4 linked regions of the Homo sapiens genome follow. The protein of the gene in region 1 purifies or fractionates together with the protein of each later gene. This does not show direct contact. Each region holds a gene or a part of one and is shown in the gene's direction. Other genes may lie near its edges.

The links. The genes of interacting proteins can lie anywhere in the genome.
Region 2: the proteins of CSN1S1 (region 1) and MAN2B2 purify together in Homo sapiens (affinity purification with mass spectrometry; one large-scale study listed by BioGRID and IntAct). This does not show direct contact.
Region 3: the proteins of CSN1S1 (region 1) and TIMP3 purify together in Homo sapiens (affinity purification with mass spectrometry; 2 studies listed by BioGRID and IntAct, with this or other methods). This does not show direct contact.
Region 4: the proteins of CSN1S1 (region 1) and B4GALNT4 purify together in Homo sapiens (affinity purification with mass spectrometry; one large-scale study listed by BioGRID and IntAct). This does not show direct contact.

What each region holds. Positions count from the first base shown.
Region 1 is NC_000004.12:69,934,068-69,939,597, forward strand, and holds part of CSN1S1 (alpha-S1-casein isoform 1 precursor), read left to right. Parts: intron 1-144; coding exon 145-177; intron 178-622; coding exon 623-643; intron 644-1,858; coding exon 1,859-1,882; intron 1,883-2,388; coding exon 2,389-2,412; intron 2,413-2,498; coding exon 2,499-2,540; intron 2,541-3,053; coding exon 3,054-3,077; intron 3,078-3,732; coding exon 3,733-3,756; intron 3,757-5,108; coding exon 5,109-5,141; intron 5,142-5,530. UniProt on the Homo sapiens protein: Important role in the capacity of milk to transport calcium phosphate. Casoxin D acts as opioid antagonist and has vasorelaxing activity mediated by bradykinin B1 receptors.
Region 2 is NC_000004.12:6,578,189-6,581,947, forward strand, and holds part of MAN2B2 (epididymis-specific alpha-mannosidase isoform 1 precursor), read left to right. Parts: intron 1-204; coding exon 205-310; intron 311-3,759.
Region 3 is NC_000022.11:32,846,705-32,850,463, forward strand, and holds part of TIMP3 (metalloproteinase inhibitor 3 precursor), read left to right. Parts: intron 1-2,747; coding exon 2,748-2,830; intron 2,831-3,759.
Region 4 is NC_000011.10:375,999-379,757, forward strand, and holds part of B4GALNT4 (N-acetyl-beta-glucosaminyl-glycoprotein 4-beta-N-acetylgalactosaminyltransferase 1), read left to right. Parts: intron 1-75; coding exon 76-176; intron 177-252; coding exon 253-353; intron 354-422; coding exon 423-1,329; intron 1,330-3,419; coding exon 3,420-3,703; intron 3,704-3,759.

The sequences.
Region 1 (5,530 bases):
TGGTCTCTGACAAATATTGCTATTAAAACACATACCTTTTGAAAATGGCAGTGTCAAAAATCATCGTATTATATGTGTATTATTATATTGTTATTGTCATTTTAGTTACTTTTTGTTTTACAATTCTTGCATTGTTTTTCACAGAAACTTCCTCTTAGATACCCAGAACGCCTTCAGGTAAATATTCTATTCTGCATTCCAAGAACTCACTCTAATTGTGAAGCACAAACTCCAAATGTGCGCTTCCCTTCTCTATGAAACAGCCTGCTTCACTTTTGCTGACGCATCATTTCTTTAGTTCAAGCACTGTCAGATGGTATTTGCTCTCACAAAACTTAGAGGACGGCACACTGACTTAGATAAACATTTATGTTAATAAAAATCTTATTTTTATTCCAGAGAAATAGTTAATTAAACAGAATGTGTTAACATGTTTATTTTAATGTATTCTTGCTTTTTTCAATGTTACACATATTCAAGCATGTGATTTACAGTTTGGTCTCATTTGATATGTTGAATCTTGAATTAGTTACCTCTACCACAACTTTCTATGAGCACAACTAATCCTACATTCTGTCCTGCAATTGGAATAATACCATTTAAAAATTATTATTTTTTACAGAATCCATCAGAGAGCAGTGAGGTAAGCTCTGTTTATGGGGAGTCAGGATTCTCTCTTCCTTTTGCTCTCTTTCAGTTAGCTGTCATGCATGTTGAATGTCTTCTTCTTTACAATTTTTATTTCCCTTCAAATGCATCCAACAACTCAAGTACCTGGATTGCTCTCTAAATTCTGTTTTGATGAAATTCCTATTTGACTTCTTAGCCATTTTGGTAAGCATAGACTTATTAAATTTACTGGCCTGGTGAAGAAGGAACTAATTAAGGTGTAGGTGTTCTTTAGATTGTAAAATTAGATCATAAAACTAAAACTAATTATTTGTTCTTCTAGCTAAGAAATCTGTTGGTTTACCGAATTAAATGGAGCATTTGTGTTCAAATGAGAATAATGTGGTTTTTTGGTGTTTTTATTATTTTTATAATTCACAATTTAATTTCAATAAGAAATTATCAAAGAAGGAAAGTTTCTCAGGCTTCTTCTGGTAAGTGTTATCCACTTATTCTTAAAAGAAGAAACATACTTTTATGGGAAAAATTATTTAATTTTTGTTTATAAAAATGTTTTTTTCACTGGGTGCTGTGGCTCACACCTGTAATCCCAACACTTTGGGAGGCTGAGGCAGGAGGATTGCTTGAGCCCAGGAATTCGAGATGAGCCTAAGCAACATAACCAAACCCCGTCTCTACAAAAAAAATTTTGAAAAAAAAAAAAATAGTCGGATGTGGCGGCATGCACTTGTGGTTCCAGCTACTTGGGAAGCTGAGGTGTGAGGGTCACTTGAGCATGGGCGGTTAAAGCTGCAATGAGTCGTGATAGCACAAGGGCAACAGAGCAAGAAATTGCCTTAAAACAAAGTGGTTTTTTGTTGTTGTTGTTGTTTAACCTAAGTTAATCAACCCTTCCCTTCATTCAGTCATCCAAACACCCAGAAAGAATATAAAAACAAGATATGTATATGTTAAAGAGCTGCTTTATATTTTAATTTGTACCTAAACGTTTGCCTCTCCAAAACACTCTGCTCTCCTTTCCGTGACGTATGTAGAGGTTTACAATTTCCTCACTCCTTATAATAGAATGCTCTTAACTATAAATAATACATATGTGTCACATTCTCTATAATTTTTGACTTAATTGTTGAATAGAAGAACATAACGTTTTAATTCAAGGACATTATCTAAATGATTTGATAGATAACTCAACTATGAATGAATTTTAACATAACTTTTTTTTTTGTAGCCTATACCATTAGAATCAAGAGAGGTAAGAATGACTCCACAGAATTTACCGTGCAATTAACAAAGAGAAGTAAGTGTTAAGATCAGGAGACTCAGAACAGTGCCTAAAACAAAGTGAAAGTCAAGGATAACAAATTTGAGTGGAACAAACTTAAAAATATTGTTAAATGCACATTTACATACTAGCCTTACACAAAGAAGGAGTAGGGAAACACCACTTAAAGGTTAGAAATGATACAATAAGGAATATTAGTTCATTTGTGAAAAATAAATTTATTTTTAAATTTGTATCAGCACTAATGAATTCTGCTGAGAATTCTGAAGACTACTGATTTGATTGACTTAATTGTGTAGTGAGAAAGACCACTTAAGGTTAGAAATGATATAATAAGGAATATTAGTTCATTCAGGAAAAATGGATTTATTTTTAAATTTGTATCAGCACGATGTGAAGTACAGTTTCTCATAGATTTCCACTCATGTATGTCTTGTTTCACTAATATTGTTTATGTTTTCTTTTTTATCCCTAAGGAATACATGAATGGTATGAACAGGGTAAGAAACATCAATGAAATTTAAATTATGTTAAAAGTTTGTTTTCATGAAAACATATTTTACAAGGTACACTTTATTGATTTTAGCAGAGAAACATTCTGAGAGAAAAACAGACTGATGAAATCAAGGTACCAAAGTTTTTCTTGAAAGAGTATGGCAAAAGTATATATTCTTGTAGTAGAAAAAAAGTTTTCCTTTAGGAAAAAAAAGCATTTTTCTATGGTTTTGTCCTTTCCTTGAACTTTTCACTCATACATTTGTAGTGACTAATGGAGTCTGCTGAGAATTCTGAAGAAAATGATTTCATTGACTTAATTGTGCAACTGTGATGAAACAAGGCATTAGTGTGAATGAATGAAATAACAAATAAACAAATAAATGCAATTATGTATTCACATTTATCACCAAAATTAAAGGAATGCTTTATCAAGGGTATTATATGAAGTAATACAATATCTGGCTCAAGAATATTTACATAGTCATACTCAATTATTTTCTTTAACCATAACATCTTTGATTTGGATTGTCTACTAGTTTTCTAGTAGAATTGGTATTGAGAGAGCAGGTGCTCAAACTTTATGAGATAAAATATATATCTTCTTAACAATCTGTCATACCTAACTGATTGACTGTCTTGGCAGGATACTAGGAATGAGTCTACTCAGGTGAGACCCTTTGTTTTAAAATTATTAAACCAATATGAGGAAAAGAAACAATACATATTTCCCCAAATAAATTATTATTTTAAATAAAAACTATGGCAGATAACTCTAATTCAAAGAAAGAAAAGAAATAGTGTATCATACATTGGCCAGAATAACCAAACCAACACAAATATTTTAAATTTAAATTCTATGGATAATGTCACTGATCTCTGTATTGCTGTAGTCGTGAAAACTGAGCAAAACATACTAGATGGAGCAAGTTCTTTTGCTTAGGTATTTACACACCATTAAATCAGTGCTCTCCTTTAGTCCAGTTGTATTTACTGCATGAGCTTCAGTGCAGTGTCCTGCTCAGAGTCCAGAAGCCAAGTTTTAAAAGAGGGAAAGCAAAAAGTCATGCTGGATAAAGGAAAATGTAAACTTGTTTTCACTGATTTGCTACAATATAGAAGAATCCGAAACGTTTTATTTAAACTTCAAAATGCAGATTCATTTGGCTCAGAGATAAAGTAGGCAGTTTTTTTAGTTTTTCTTATTACTTTTATATTGTCTCAGTTTTCTATTTTCTTTGACATCCATTTTATTTGGTAATCATTACTTTTGTATTTGACTATTTGTCATGAAAAATGAAATTGATTATTTTTTCTTTCTTAAGAACTGTGTTGTGGCAGAGCCTGAGGTAAGACCCATTCATTCTAGTGAACTCTACACTTACGTATCAAACATAGTATATGCAGCATGCTTCATTTTAAAAAGACTGTCTTCTGAAATTAAGCAAAATAAGAAACTGAATTTTAAAATGTTAACATTTTAATTTTAAATTAATCCTATTCTAATTTTAACTTATTGAACTTCTCAAACAGGAATATTATACTCAAGAATGTACAATGTTGTGCTAGATAAAGTTGAAATTGGAAGACGGAATTTAAGCCATTTAAATAATAATTAGTAAAAAAATGCTTATTCATTAAAATATAAAATAAAAACAAAAGGTGCATGGATGTTTAAAATGAGAGTCCCACAGAACACTGACTCTGACATCCCAGGGCATGAGATTACTTTTTTATTTTAGATACAAGTGCATGTATGTATGTAAGATTTTTACATGAGTATGTTAGACACAGGTAGTGAGCATACTACCCAACAGGTATAGGTTGGTGCAAAAGTTATTGTGCTTTTTACCATTAAAAATAATGGCAATACTATTAGGTTGGTGCAAAAGTAATTGCAGTTTTTACAGCGTAATGGCAAAAACCTCAATTACTTTTGCACCAACTTAATAGTTTGTCAACCCACGCCCCTCTCCCTCTCCTTGGGCAGAAAGAATCTATGGCAGCAATTACCTAGGATCAGTGAGCTATACTACCTACTCTACAATTATATTTTTTTAAATGCTGACTTATTACATATGGTTAATCAACCATCCCCAGAGATAAAGTCTGTTGAATATTAAAATTAATCTGTTAAAATATGTATGTATTTGGAAAGTAAAATTATATGTATATATAAATATAAACATAAATGACTTTGAAGAAAAAGTAAATATTTCAAAGTAAATATTTTAAAATCTAATGTAATTTTAATTTCATCTTAAGATTGTGCATTGTATTTAATGTTTCCATTTTATTCACATCAAAGAAGCCCCAAGGACAGATGAGAACAGATGTTTAACCCAGGGTTCTGGGTACCCAGCTAAATATGGTTCTTTCTTAGAGGTTTCATTTTTGTCACAAAAATCTATGCAAATTTTGCATTCTACTCAATGATAAACTTGTGTTTGTTTTCCTAAATTAAAAACAATTGTTTTTAAGTTTTTATGTTCCCAGATAAGTTATTAAACCTACCACCATAATTTTTCAAGTAAAATTCACACTCCAAGAAAATACAATGTAGTACGCCTGAATTTTTCCATACCACTTATTCAGTTATAATGTTACCATGGTAAGCATTTCACCATGATGACATGGAACTAGTTTCCTTCAAATTCTAAAAATCCCAGGGGATAATTAACACTAGATTTCTTTCTTTTAGAAGATGGAATCCAGCATCAGTTCATCGAGTGAGGTAAATAATTTTGATATTAATTCTGTGTCCCAACTAATTTAAAAAATTATGAAAACTTGTACCGTGAGGATTACATATCCCTTAAGGTCTCATTGTACAAGGCAGTGTATATGTGGCACTATTCTAGTTTTAGTATGTGAGTAGCTATCCAAAAGAAGTAAGAAAGCAATTGTTTGTCAGAGACAAATTGACAAAATTATTTCTGGGCAAACAATCTTATCTGGCCATCTGTGATGTCCAAATTATTTTTTTAACCAATTACTTTGTCCTTCGCAGATTTTGTTAAAACTCAATCTTATCATTAAAAATTCTAACAATTACCATGCTTATAAACCCATGAAGTAAACATTTCATAAACCATTTAGAATTTAACCAATTCTAGATTAATC
Region 2 (3,759 bases), about 63 Mb from region 1:
TCAAATACCACCTGAGGGCTGCATGATTTCTAGGTGGTGGGAACACAGTGTGGACCAGGACAGACAGTGCCCTGCTTTTATAGAGTAAGCAAGGGTGGGGAGTTTTATGCAGGGCGTGTGTGGCGCTGTAGGTGTGTTCCCCACAGACCCAGCCATGCTCAGGAGCCGTAACTGGCTTTTTTCTCTCTGCCTGCCCATGTCAAGGTCCGCCAGCTCCTGGAGGAAGGACGCCTGGAATTTGTCATCGGAGGCCAGGTCATGCATGACGAGGCTGTGACGCACCTTGATGACCAGATCCTGCAGCTCACAGGTTTGGCCACCCTACCCTGCACCCAGGGTCCCTCAGGACCTCCAGTGGGGCTGGGACATGGTATCAGAACCCCCAGGTTCTGAGCTCTGTCTGCCCCTCTTAGTGGGGTCGGGGACCTTAACCAGTGAAAGCAGTGATTTGCTAGTGCCATATTCATGCCTCACCAAGGAAGTTGAATGTAGGGGTTAAGAGCATGGATGCTAGAGTCAGATGGTCTCAATATATCCTGGCTCTGCCAATTCCCTCCTCTGTGACCCTGGAAAGGAATGTAACTTCAGTTTCCTCATAGATAAAATGAGTTTGATGGTAATACCTACCTCAAAGGGTTGTTGTGAGTATTAAATGGGATAATTCAAATAAAGCACTTTAGTAGGATGTGGGTTCCCTAGTAAATGCTCAGTAAGTGTTTGCTGCCTTCCATCACAATTACCACCTTCAGCACCATAATGACCATGACTACTACCATCACCACCACCACCACGATGACCATCACTACCACTACCATCACCACCACCACCACCATCACCATCACCACTACCACCATCACCACCATCACCACCACCATCACCATCACCACCACCACCACCATCACCATCACCAGCACCACCACCATCACCATCACCACTACCACCACCACCACCATCACCACCACCATCACCATCACCACCACCACCACCACCATCACCATCACCAGCACCACCACCATCACCATCACCACCACCACCACCACCATCACCACCACCACCCTTCACCACCATCACCACCACCACCATCACCACCACCATCACCATCACCACCACCATCACCACCACCACCACCATCACCACCACCACCACCACCACCATCACCATCACCACCACCATCACCATCACCACCACCACCACTACCCTTCACCATCACCACCACCACCATCACCATCACCACCACCATCACCACCACCCTTCACCATCACCACCACCCTTCACCACCACAATGACCATCACTACCACTACCATCACCACCACCATCATAACTACCATCACCACCACCCTTCACCACTGCTATGACCACCACTACCACTACCATTACTACCACTACCATCACCACCATCACCACTACCACCATCATCTTCACCACTACAATGACCATTACTACCACTACCATCACCACCACCCCCTAAACACTATCACCATGATCACCACCCATCACTGTCGCCACCACCATCACCACATCCATTACTACCATCCCCTCCACAATCATCATCACCACCACCATGACCATCTCCCTCACCATTGTGTCCACTGTCCTCAGCACCATCACCCACAGTGCCGTGGGGCACTCTACTCACCATTTACCAAATGCCTTTCACAGTGACACCCCAGCCAATCCTAATGGCGGGCTGATGGTGAGGCATGGTGATGCCCAGTTTCATTTTGCAGATGTAGAAACTGAGATCCAAAGAAATGCAGTAACTCTCTCCAGGGTAGATGGCCAGGACTTGAGTCCAGGCCTAGGGACTGAAGCTCCGAGTCCACAGTCACTCCACTACAGCATGGGCCCTGATTTCCCCATTTGTAAAACATCCAGGCAGAGAGCAATGTTGTCAAAGGATGTTTTTGGCACTCTCCCTTTTCTCATCTGTAATCTGGAGTGTTCCCCTGTCTCAGTTTCTTACTGCCTTACATCTGGACTTTGCTCAAACCCTAGACTTGCCCTTCCATGAGAAGGAGGCGTGATGGACACAGCCCTACAGACAGAGCTCCTCCTGTGGCCAGGAGCTCAGCCCCTGCTTGTCCCCCTGCATCCCCACAGGCCCAGAGGTAACAGGGGAGGACAGCAAGGCTCAGAGGGAGCACCTTGCCCTCAGCCGCCTGCTGTGGCTCCCTGACTCCAGAGCCCCTGCTCTTTCACTCCCCCATGTGAAGTGTGGGCAAGGGATCTATCCCAACAGACTTCCCCCACACCCCTTCACAAGCCCACTGCCAGGGAATGTGTGACACTGTAGGCGTGTCCCCCACCTGCCTCCTGCCCCGTGCCAGCGAGGAGGCTCTGGGGCTGTTTCTCACCTGTGCCATTTCACGCAGTGCTCCCCCTCATTCTCCACCCTCCTCCTCAAGATGCAGCTGAGAAGCCCCTCCCGCAGGAAATCTCTGAGTCTCTGCAGTTCTGTGTCACCTCCCCACTTAACCGCTGAACCTCAAGATGCCCCTGGCAGGGACCCCCATCTGACTCATCTCAGCACCCAGCATAGGGTCTGGCCCAGACCACTGCTTACTGGGCAAGGCTGGGCAAGGGGTGGGCGCTGAACTGCCCTGCCCTGAGGGTACCCACCACTGGGGTACCTCGCCTCTGGCCTCAGCCCACCGTGCCTAAGTGCTGATACCCCAGCGCTGACCCTGCAGGTCTGACCTGGCAACTGGAAGCCTCAGGGAAGCTGAGGCTGTGTCGCTCTGGGGCAGGAAGAGCCTCCAGAGACACAAGAGACAGCGGCTGTTGTGAGGCTCCATTTCCAAACCTGTCCAAGCTCATGGGGCCCTCAGGGTACAGACATGTGGGTTTCTTTCATGATAACCACCTTGTTCTAGGTACAAGATGTACACGTATTTTTTTTTCAGTCCTCAGGGCAATCTGGTAGATGGGTAATCTTACAAATGCTTATTTGTAGAGAAGTTTGAGGCTCAAATGCTATCCAAATGTGCCCACCACCAGCTAAGTGATGGGACCCAGATCCAACCCTAGCCCGGCCGAGTCAGGAAGGTTACTTGTGGCTGAGCCCCTCTCACTGGCGGCTGAGCCAAGCCCTTTCCCATCTGCTATCTCTTAGTTGCCTCAGAACAGCCTGGTAGCAAGTGGTACTGTTCACAGCCCCATTTGACAGATGAGGAAACTGAGGTACTGAGAGATGCGGGATTTATATATATGCAGTAGGTAACAGAACTGGCGCTCAAGCCCATGTGTGCCTGGCCTGGGCTCTTTCCTTAACTTGTAGTCCCTAGGGCGGGGGCAGAGTGTGTGTATCAGACCACCCATCTCAGATGTCCCAGGCATTCTGGCTGTGAATTATGTCCACATTGGGCTGGTTTTCTCAGATATGTTGGGGTAAGAGGGGCTGGATCACCCCTCACTGCTTCCGGGCCCTTTATCCTCCATCTCACCTTGGTGGAGCCCCTGCCTCGAGGCAGGCCCTGGACAGCAAAGGAAGACAGGAGCAGGCTGGTGCAGCCTCTAGACCTCTGACCTTCTTCTTCGGGTATCTAGGGTGCCAAAGCATCTCCTCAACCAAGACCCACTCCTGGCTGCCCGCCAGGGCCTGGGGCACTGGGCCTGCCCGTAAGCTCACCTTTCCAGCCTTTACCTCCCCAACTCCTGCTCCCGGCAGTCACGCCAACACCACCTTAATTTTAGATGTGACATTTCTAGTGAGGGGAAAAGCATTTGTTCCCAGCACTGCAGTGTCAGGGAAAGGCTGG
Region 3 (3,759 bases), on another chromosome or scaffold:
CTATGTTGCTGCTCCAATAGTAATAAGCAAATCACTTGTTAGCCACATGAGAGGCACTGGGCTAAGAAAGCCAGAGAGATTCAGGAGGAAAGAGCCCCAGAGAGATCATACAGTAATGGTGGAACCCAAACTTCAATGCAGCTTCCTGACTACAAAAACGTATTCTTTTCACTGAACTATCCTCAGATGAAAAGGTTCCAAGCTCAGGCTATTTGGGGTAAGGAAGGAGTTGGCTGGTTGTATGTGCAGAAGCTTCCAGCAGTACTCAGCTTTATGGGGCAGGTCTGCTTGTGACATCTTCTGTCTAAATCAAGTCAAGCCATTTTTGAACCAGGATGTTGCTATTTAAAGGAATCCCTTTTGCCTTGCCCCTCCCACACCCCCCGGCCAAGACTCGCTCCCTTGTTTACCTTCTGTGTTAATGAGGCAGAGAAGATGGGTCCAAATCATTTCAGGAAGAATCAGTGGTAAAGGCTGGCAGACATGCCTCTGCACGGAGGTGAAGCTGTTATAACCTGCCTGTGAGAGTTAATATGGAGGAAACAGTCCCCGGGGCCTCCGGGAGGCTGGCTTGTCGCCGAGAATACTACCGCAATGTTAGAAACAGAGGTGGATGCAGGATCTTGACAGACATTGGCCTGGGATCTTGCCAACCTCTCGTTTTTACAGCAGACTTGGAAACAACCACTCGCCTCCTCCTAATTTGAGCTGCCTCCGCTAAATTGCTCACTTTGCCAATGACTGTGTGTTTTGCCATCGCCGGCAGGGAAGGTCTGAAGGGGCCATTGATTCATCTGAACCCTGACTTCATGTCTGACTGCAAGGGTAGGATCCAAGCTCATTTGGAAAGAAACAAGACAGAATCCAGTATGGATGAGGAATCAGTTCTTAGTAAAGATTTTTTAAAAACAGAGATTAGAGTCAAATAACTGGGATACATAGTGGAGCATCCACAATGAGGAAGGATAATGGAGCTACCAAAATGTGTGTGTGTGTGTTTGTGTTTGTGTGTGTGAAGGGTATTTTACTTAACAAGCATTTATTGAGTATCTACTCCTTTTTGGGCTAAGTGCAACTTGAGATAAGAAAGATTGATAGGATCTCAGGGCTGAAGGAGTTCAATTTGTAATTCAAAGTATGACTGCATAAGCAAGCCCCATTCCAATTCCTGTTGAGGTCTTAGCATGGAAGTATCCAGCACCCTCATCACACCCCCTGATAGAGGCACTCTCTGCCCTAATGGCAGCCCCCCTGCCTTTTGTTGCTGGTTCTTATTATTAGACGATTTTTTTCTTTGGTTGAGCCAATGAATGTTACTCTCTGCAATTTCCAGTTTTGGTATTCAAGACCTGTCCATTTGCTCCTCCATGTGCCAATTTTACAAATACCTGAAGACAGCTCTTGGGTGCTTCTTTTTCACACAACGTAGAAAGAGAAGCACAACCTTGTAGAATCTAAAAGTCAAGTCCTCTCCTCTTTCTGTTCCCAGTGCATGTGGTAAATGCCTCTCTTTCAGCCCTCAACCCACTGGGTGTAATTACTTTTGTATTCATAGTTAACTAGTATCTACTGGGTAAATCCTTTCTGCCAGACATTGTAGTGGGAAATTTCATAAGATCTTTCGTTCAATCCTGATTCCAATTCCCTGATGTAAAGAGAGTTATACCCTCTTTATAGATGAGAAAATTGAGGCTCAGAAAGAGGAAGTGGTTTCACTTCTTGGTCTGTTACCTTATCTAGATCATGTGGATGCTAATACTGCCCTTGTAAGACAGTTAAGAGCAGTAAATAAGTGAAATGTACATGGCACATAGTAGGTGTGCAATAAATGGGAGCTGTTTTCATTGGAACAGCCCTTCCATGGTTAGCCCATTTCATTTTTGGTGATGATAATGATGATGATATTAATAATATTTGTCTAGTGCAAACTATGTCCAAGACAGTATCAAGAGTTTCACATTTGTCATCTTGACTAATCCCTTCAGTTCAAGAGATTAGTATCATTATGATTCCTGTTTTATAGAAGAGGAGGCCAGAAACAAAGTTACTTACTTGCATACAGTCGCAATAGCCATAAACAGCAGAGCTGAGATTGGAACAGTTCTGTCTGGCTCCTGAGCCCCGACTCCCAATTGCTCCTTCTTCTAACCACATCCCCATAGAGCTCAGACTCTATTGCATCCCTTGCTATCTAAGCACTGGATACCAAGGGCTCAATCAGAATGCTAACTGGGGGCACTGTGGGAAGCTAGGGTGCACCACAACCCTGTAGACATGTCAAGATGTGGTGAATTAATGCATGCAAAGGAAGAGCCCCAAATGAGGTGGTTAGAAAGGGGTCCTAGTGGAAAGAGAACAGATCTGGGAGACCATGGCATTGTCAGATGGACAAGGGAGGGGGGACAATGGCTCTAACAGGAGAAGTAGGTTTTGGATTATGGTAAAGTCACAAAGTCAAGAAAATCCTCAGGGTCGGCGGGGGTTGACTATAGCCTTGGAAGTTCTGGAGCTGGCAATTGTGAATATTTGGGGTAATTAACTTGAATGGTGGCTGTTTCTTTTTCCTCCAACCTCCCTCTCACCCCAGGGAATTCCCACTCTTGTAAACACAATCATCTATTCCAGTTGGCTCCAAGGTAAGAGTGCAATTCCAGGCTCCACAGAGGCTAGCGTGCCCGCCCTGAGATGCTGTTCCTGATGTGGTTCAGGCCTTCCTAACCTCTTATTGTCTCCTTCTGTCTCTGCAGTGATCCGGGCCAAGGTGGTGGGGAAGAAGCTGGTAAAGGAGGGGCCCTTCGGCACGCTGGTCTACACCATCAAGCAGATGAAGGTAGGTAATGTCATCACCCTGGCTCCGGGAAGGTTTTTGGGTTTTTGCCAGAAGAGTCCTGGCTAAGGGAGGCAAAGTGGGTTGGAACTGGGGTGTGTGTCTAAGCACCAGCCAGACCCAGCCCTTCTGCCTGCTGGAGAGGGAGCTGCTAAGGCTGCATAAAGGGATGGGTAGGGAGGGGGCATGGGGCTGCCTTGTCCAAGAGCCCATGCAGGTGGAGTCACTCCAAGGCACTTGTTAGGAAGCTGAGCTCTGGAGCCAGATGGCAGATAGCCTTGTTAGCTCGTAACCATGAGACCTTGGTCAAGTCACTGCCCCTCTCTGGGCTTTAATCTTCCCAATTGTGAAATGAGGGGGTTGGACTAGATCATCTCTATGAACTCTTCTGAGCTCTGACTATCTGGGACTCAACAGTGCTTACAGGTTTCATGCAGCCACTGAGGTTACAGCTTAGGTTTACAGCCCTCAAATCTTTACATGGAAACTGTGCTGATCACAGGAACCTCATCCCAAGGCAGGAACTTCACCTTCTTTCCCTATTTTCCCAGCTGATTGTCTTCTTGCATCCTAGATAGTTAGCAATGTTTGCTAAGCATATTCTTATCATTAAACATATTACTGAGGATATGAACATCATGAAGTACAGGAAGGAGGTATGCCCTTAAGAAAAAGAACACCAGATTTGAAATCTAGAGAACCTGCCTCCTAGTCTCACCTCTACTCCTAAATAGCCTGCTTACCTTGGGCTTGTCCCTTTTCCTGGGCCGCAGTTTTGCCACCTGTTAACAGTGTGGGGTTGGGCTTGGTGCTCCTAACATCCTCTCTAGCTCAGGCATTCTAAGCACCCTGGGATGCGGGCCATGTTACTTGTAAGGAGGAGCGGGTGGTATACAATGGAAGGGTGTACTGGTGATTGCCTTAGCACAGAA
Region 4 (3,759 bases), on another chromosome or scaffold:
GGAGCCTTCTCCAGCCCCTTGGGAGGCCGCCCCGGGAGGTCCGCGCCCTGAGCCCTGCGCCCCCCCACCCCCCAGGTGTACCTGTCCTTCGTTTATCCCAACGACTACACTCGCCTCACCCACATGGAGACGGACAACAAGTGCTTCTACCGCGAGTCTCCGCTGTATCTGGAGAGGTGGGCGCGCGGCCGGGCTAATGCGGGGCGGGGTGGGCGGGGCGGGACTCGGCTCTGATGCCCCGCCGCGCCCCAGGTTTGGGTTCTATAAATACATGAAGATGGACAAGGAGGAGGGGGATGAGGATGAAGAAGACGAGGTGCAGCGCCGAGCCTTCCTCTTCCTCAACCCGGACGGTGAGTGTCCGCAGCGCCCCTGGCCCGCACCCACCTGCGCAGGGAGCTTCTAACCCGCGTTTCCCGCAGACTTCCTGGACGACGAGGACGAGGGGGAGCTGCTCGACAGCCTGGAGCCCACCGAGGCGGCCCCGCCCAGGAGCGGCCCCCAGTCCCCCGCCCCAGCAGCCCCCGCCCAGCCCGGAGCCACCCTCGCCCCGCCGACCCCTCCCCGCCCCCGGGACGGGGGGACCCCCAGGCACTCCCGGGCCCTGAGCTGGGCCGCCAGGGCCGCCCGCCCTTTGCCGCTCTTCTTGGGCCGAGCTCCGCCCCCGCGCCCTGCAGTGGAGCAGCCGCCCCCAAAGGTGTACGTGACCAGGGTGCGGCCGGGACAGCGGGCATCCCCCCGGGCCCCAGCGCCGCGTGCGCCCTGGCCGCCCTTCCCTGGCGTCTTCCTGCACCCCAGGCCTCTGCCCAGAGTGCAGCTGCGGGCGCCCCCACGCCCACCCCGGCCCCACGGCCGCAGGACCGGCGGCCCCCAGGCCACACAGCCGAGGCCCCCAGCCCGGGCGCAGGCCACCCAAGGGGGCCGGGAGGGCCAGGCGCGCACGCTGGGACCTGCGGCGCCCACAGTGGACTCAAACTTGTCCTCCGAAGCGCGGCCCGTGACCTCCTTCCTGAGCTTGTCCCAGGTGTCCGGGCCGCAGCTGCCCGGGGAGGGCGAAGAGGAGGAGGAAGGGGAGGACGATGGGGCCCCGGGCGACGAGGCCGCGTCGGAGGACAGCGAGGAGGCCGCGGGCCCGGCGCTCGGACGCTGGCGTGAGGACGCCATCGACTGGCAGCGCACGTTCAGCGTGGGCGCCGTGGACTTCGAGCTGCTGCGCTCGGACTGGAACGACCTGCGATGCAACGTTTCGGGGAACCTGCAGCTGCCGGAGGCGGAGGCCGTGGACGTGACCGCTCAGTACATGGAGCGGCTGAACGCGCGCCACGGCGGGTATGGGGGCGGCCGAACGCGCGCCAGGGCGGTTTTGGAGGCGGGGACAGCCGGGGAGAGGAGGTCCTGGCCTTGGCGGACTCCTCAGACCTTCCCCAGGGCCCAGTGGTGTACCGGCCTGGGGGCTGAGGCACCGCGCCCCACCCCAGGGAAGCCCCAGCTTCTCTCCTTCCTTCCTGGCGTCCTGACTGCCCGGGCACTTGTCCAGCCTCAGGGACCTCCCTGGAGCCCCACCCAGGGCTGGCGCCCCATCCTTGCACCTGTGTACCCCACTTCTGTCATCCTGGACCTGGGCCCAGGGATGAGTCCAAGCTGCAGAGATCAGCGTCAGTCGCATCCAGTTGCTGCGCAGACAGCCCCATTCCGGGGGGGCCAGGCAGAGACCCTTAGGGCAAAGCTCAAGACCCCTGGGCCCCTCCTCCTCTCCCCTCGCAGTGCCCCTGGGCGTTCCCAGACTGTCAGGACCCGACTGCAGAGGAAGGTGCAGGGCTTCTGCCCCATTGGCCCCTCTGGTCTCCCTGAGGCCCCAGGAATCTAGTGCTGTCTGCCCTCCCTGCAGGCTGGTGGGCAGGAGTGGGGAGTCTAATTTGGCCTTGGGGAGGCCTGTGGAGTTCTAAGAAGAGGCAGTGTCTGCTGTGCCCAGCCTTGAAGGCGAGTTAGGAGTTGCACAGTGATGACAGGCAGAGGCAGGGGCAGAGGATGGAGGCAGAACCGGGACTGTTTCTCCTGTGCGTGATGGAAGGTTGCGAGCAGAGCAAAGCCAGGGGCAGAGGATGGAGACAGGGCCAGGACTGTTTCTCATGTGTGTGATGGAAGGTTGCGAGCAGAGCAAAGGCAGGGGCAGAGGATGGAGGCACAGCTGCATGTGACTGTTTCTTGTGTGCATGATGGAAGGTTGCGAGCAGAGCAGGAATTCCACCGGTTTGGGTGCAGACAGGTATGCCTCTGCCTGGAGGGGAAGGGAAGGTGGTGGTGGTGACTGACAGCCTGGAGCCCTGGGCGGTGGGTGCTGGATTCTAGGTGGCTCAGAGGGCACGCCTGCCCCGGCTCTAAGCTTCCTGAGAGCAGCTCGTCATTTCTTGGGGGCCTCATGGGAAGATCATGGTTGTGGCCCCACCAATGCCCACCTGGGTATGGCTCAAGGAGCAACAGTGTAGAGAGACCAAGAGCATTTGGGGCAGGAGGTCCCTGACACTCAGGGCTTTGGGGTGGGGAAGGACAGGAGTTGGAGGGAGGCCTTGGACCCTCAGCTGTCACACAGGTGGGCGTCCCCCAGTGAAAGGCACAGACTGCCAAGGGAGGACGTGAGGCCGACTGAAGAGAAACCATCGTCTAGGGCAGGGTCCTGTTTTCTCCAGATGAGGAGAGCAGAGTGGAGGGAAACTGAGGTTCTTGGCCGAGTGGAATGAGGAGGAAGGGGCCAGGAACGGGCTCCCAGCATGGAAGCAGCCTCCTCCACTCAGGGATCAGGACAGGAGCGGAACTGCTGCCTGGGGGAAAGGGGTGCTGTGAAGGCACGATTGGGGGCTTCTCAGAAGAGGTGACCCAGGGCCTGGAAGAGGAGTGGCTGGGAGGACTGGGGCAAACATCCCAGGCAGGGGACTCCTCAGGACAAAGGAGAGGAGACAGTGGCTGTGCCTGAGGAGGAGTCTGCTACCCCAGTATGAGGGGAAGGTTGAAAGCCACAAAATCAAAACTGCTTAAGGTCCTAGAATGCCACAAAAGCCCCTTGGAACCTTGTCCTATGGGCGGTGGCTAACTCCTGAAGGTTTCTGAGCAAGGGGGTAACAGGACAGGCGGGCATGTCATAAACGTCACCTGGGACGTGAGTGGTGGCCAGGAGGCCCGCGAGGAGGTGAGGATGGGCCTGGGCTCGCTGGTGTGCCCCCAGTCCTGCCCCGACCCTGGAGGGGGTGGCTGGAAGGTGGACCTGCCTGCTGGGCCAACCTGGAGGGGCAGGTGCTGTGCCGCGGAGCCCGCAGCCTCCGCCAACTCCAAGTCGGCTGAGTTTCTGTGGCCAGGGCGGACCAGGGTTGCGGGCGGGGTGCAGGCTGGAAGCCCCAGTACCGGCTGACCGCTGAGCCTTGCAGGCGCTTCGCGCTTCTGCGCATCGTGAACGTGGAGAAGCGCCGGGACTCGGCGCGAGGGAGTCGCTTCCTGCTGGAGCTGGAGCTGCAGGAGCGCGGGGGCGGCCGCCTGCGACTGTCCGAGTACGTCTTCCTGCGGCTGCCGGGAGCCCGCGTAGGGGATGCAGACGGAGAAAGTCCCGAACCCGCTCCCGCCGCCTCCGTGCGCCCCGACGGCCGCCCCGAGCTCTGCCGGCCACTGCGCCTGGCCTGGCGCCAGGACGTGATGGTTCACTTCATCGTGCCAGGTTCGCAGGGCGGGCTCGGGGTGTCCGGGAGACCTCGTGGAAGGAACATGGACCCT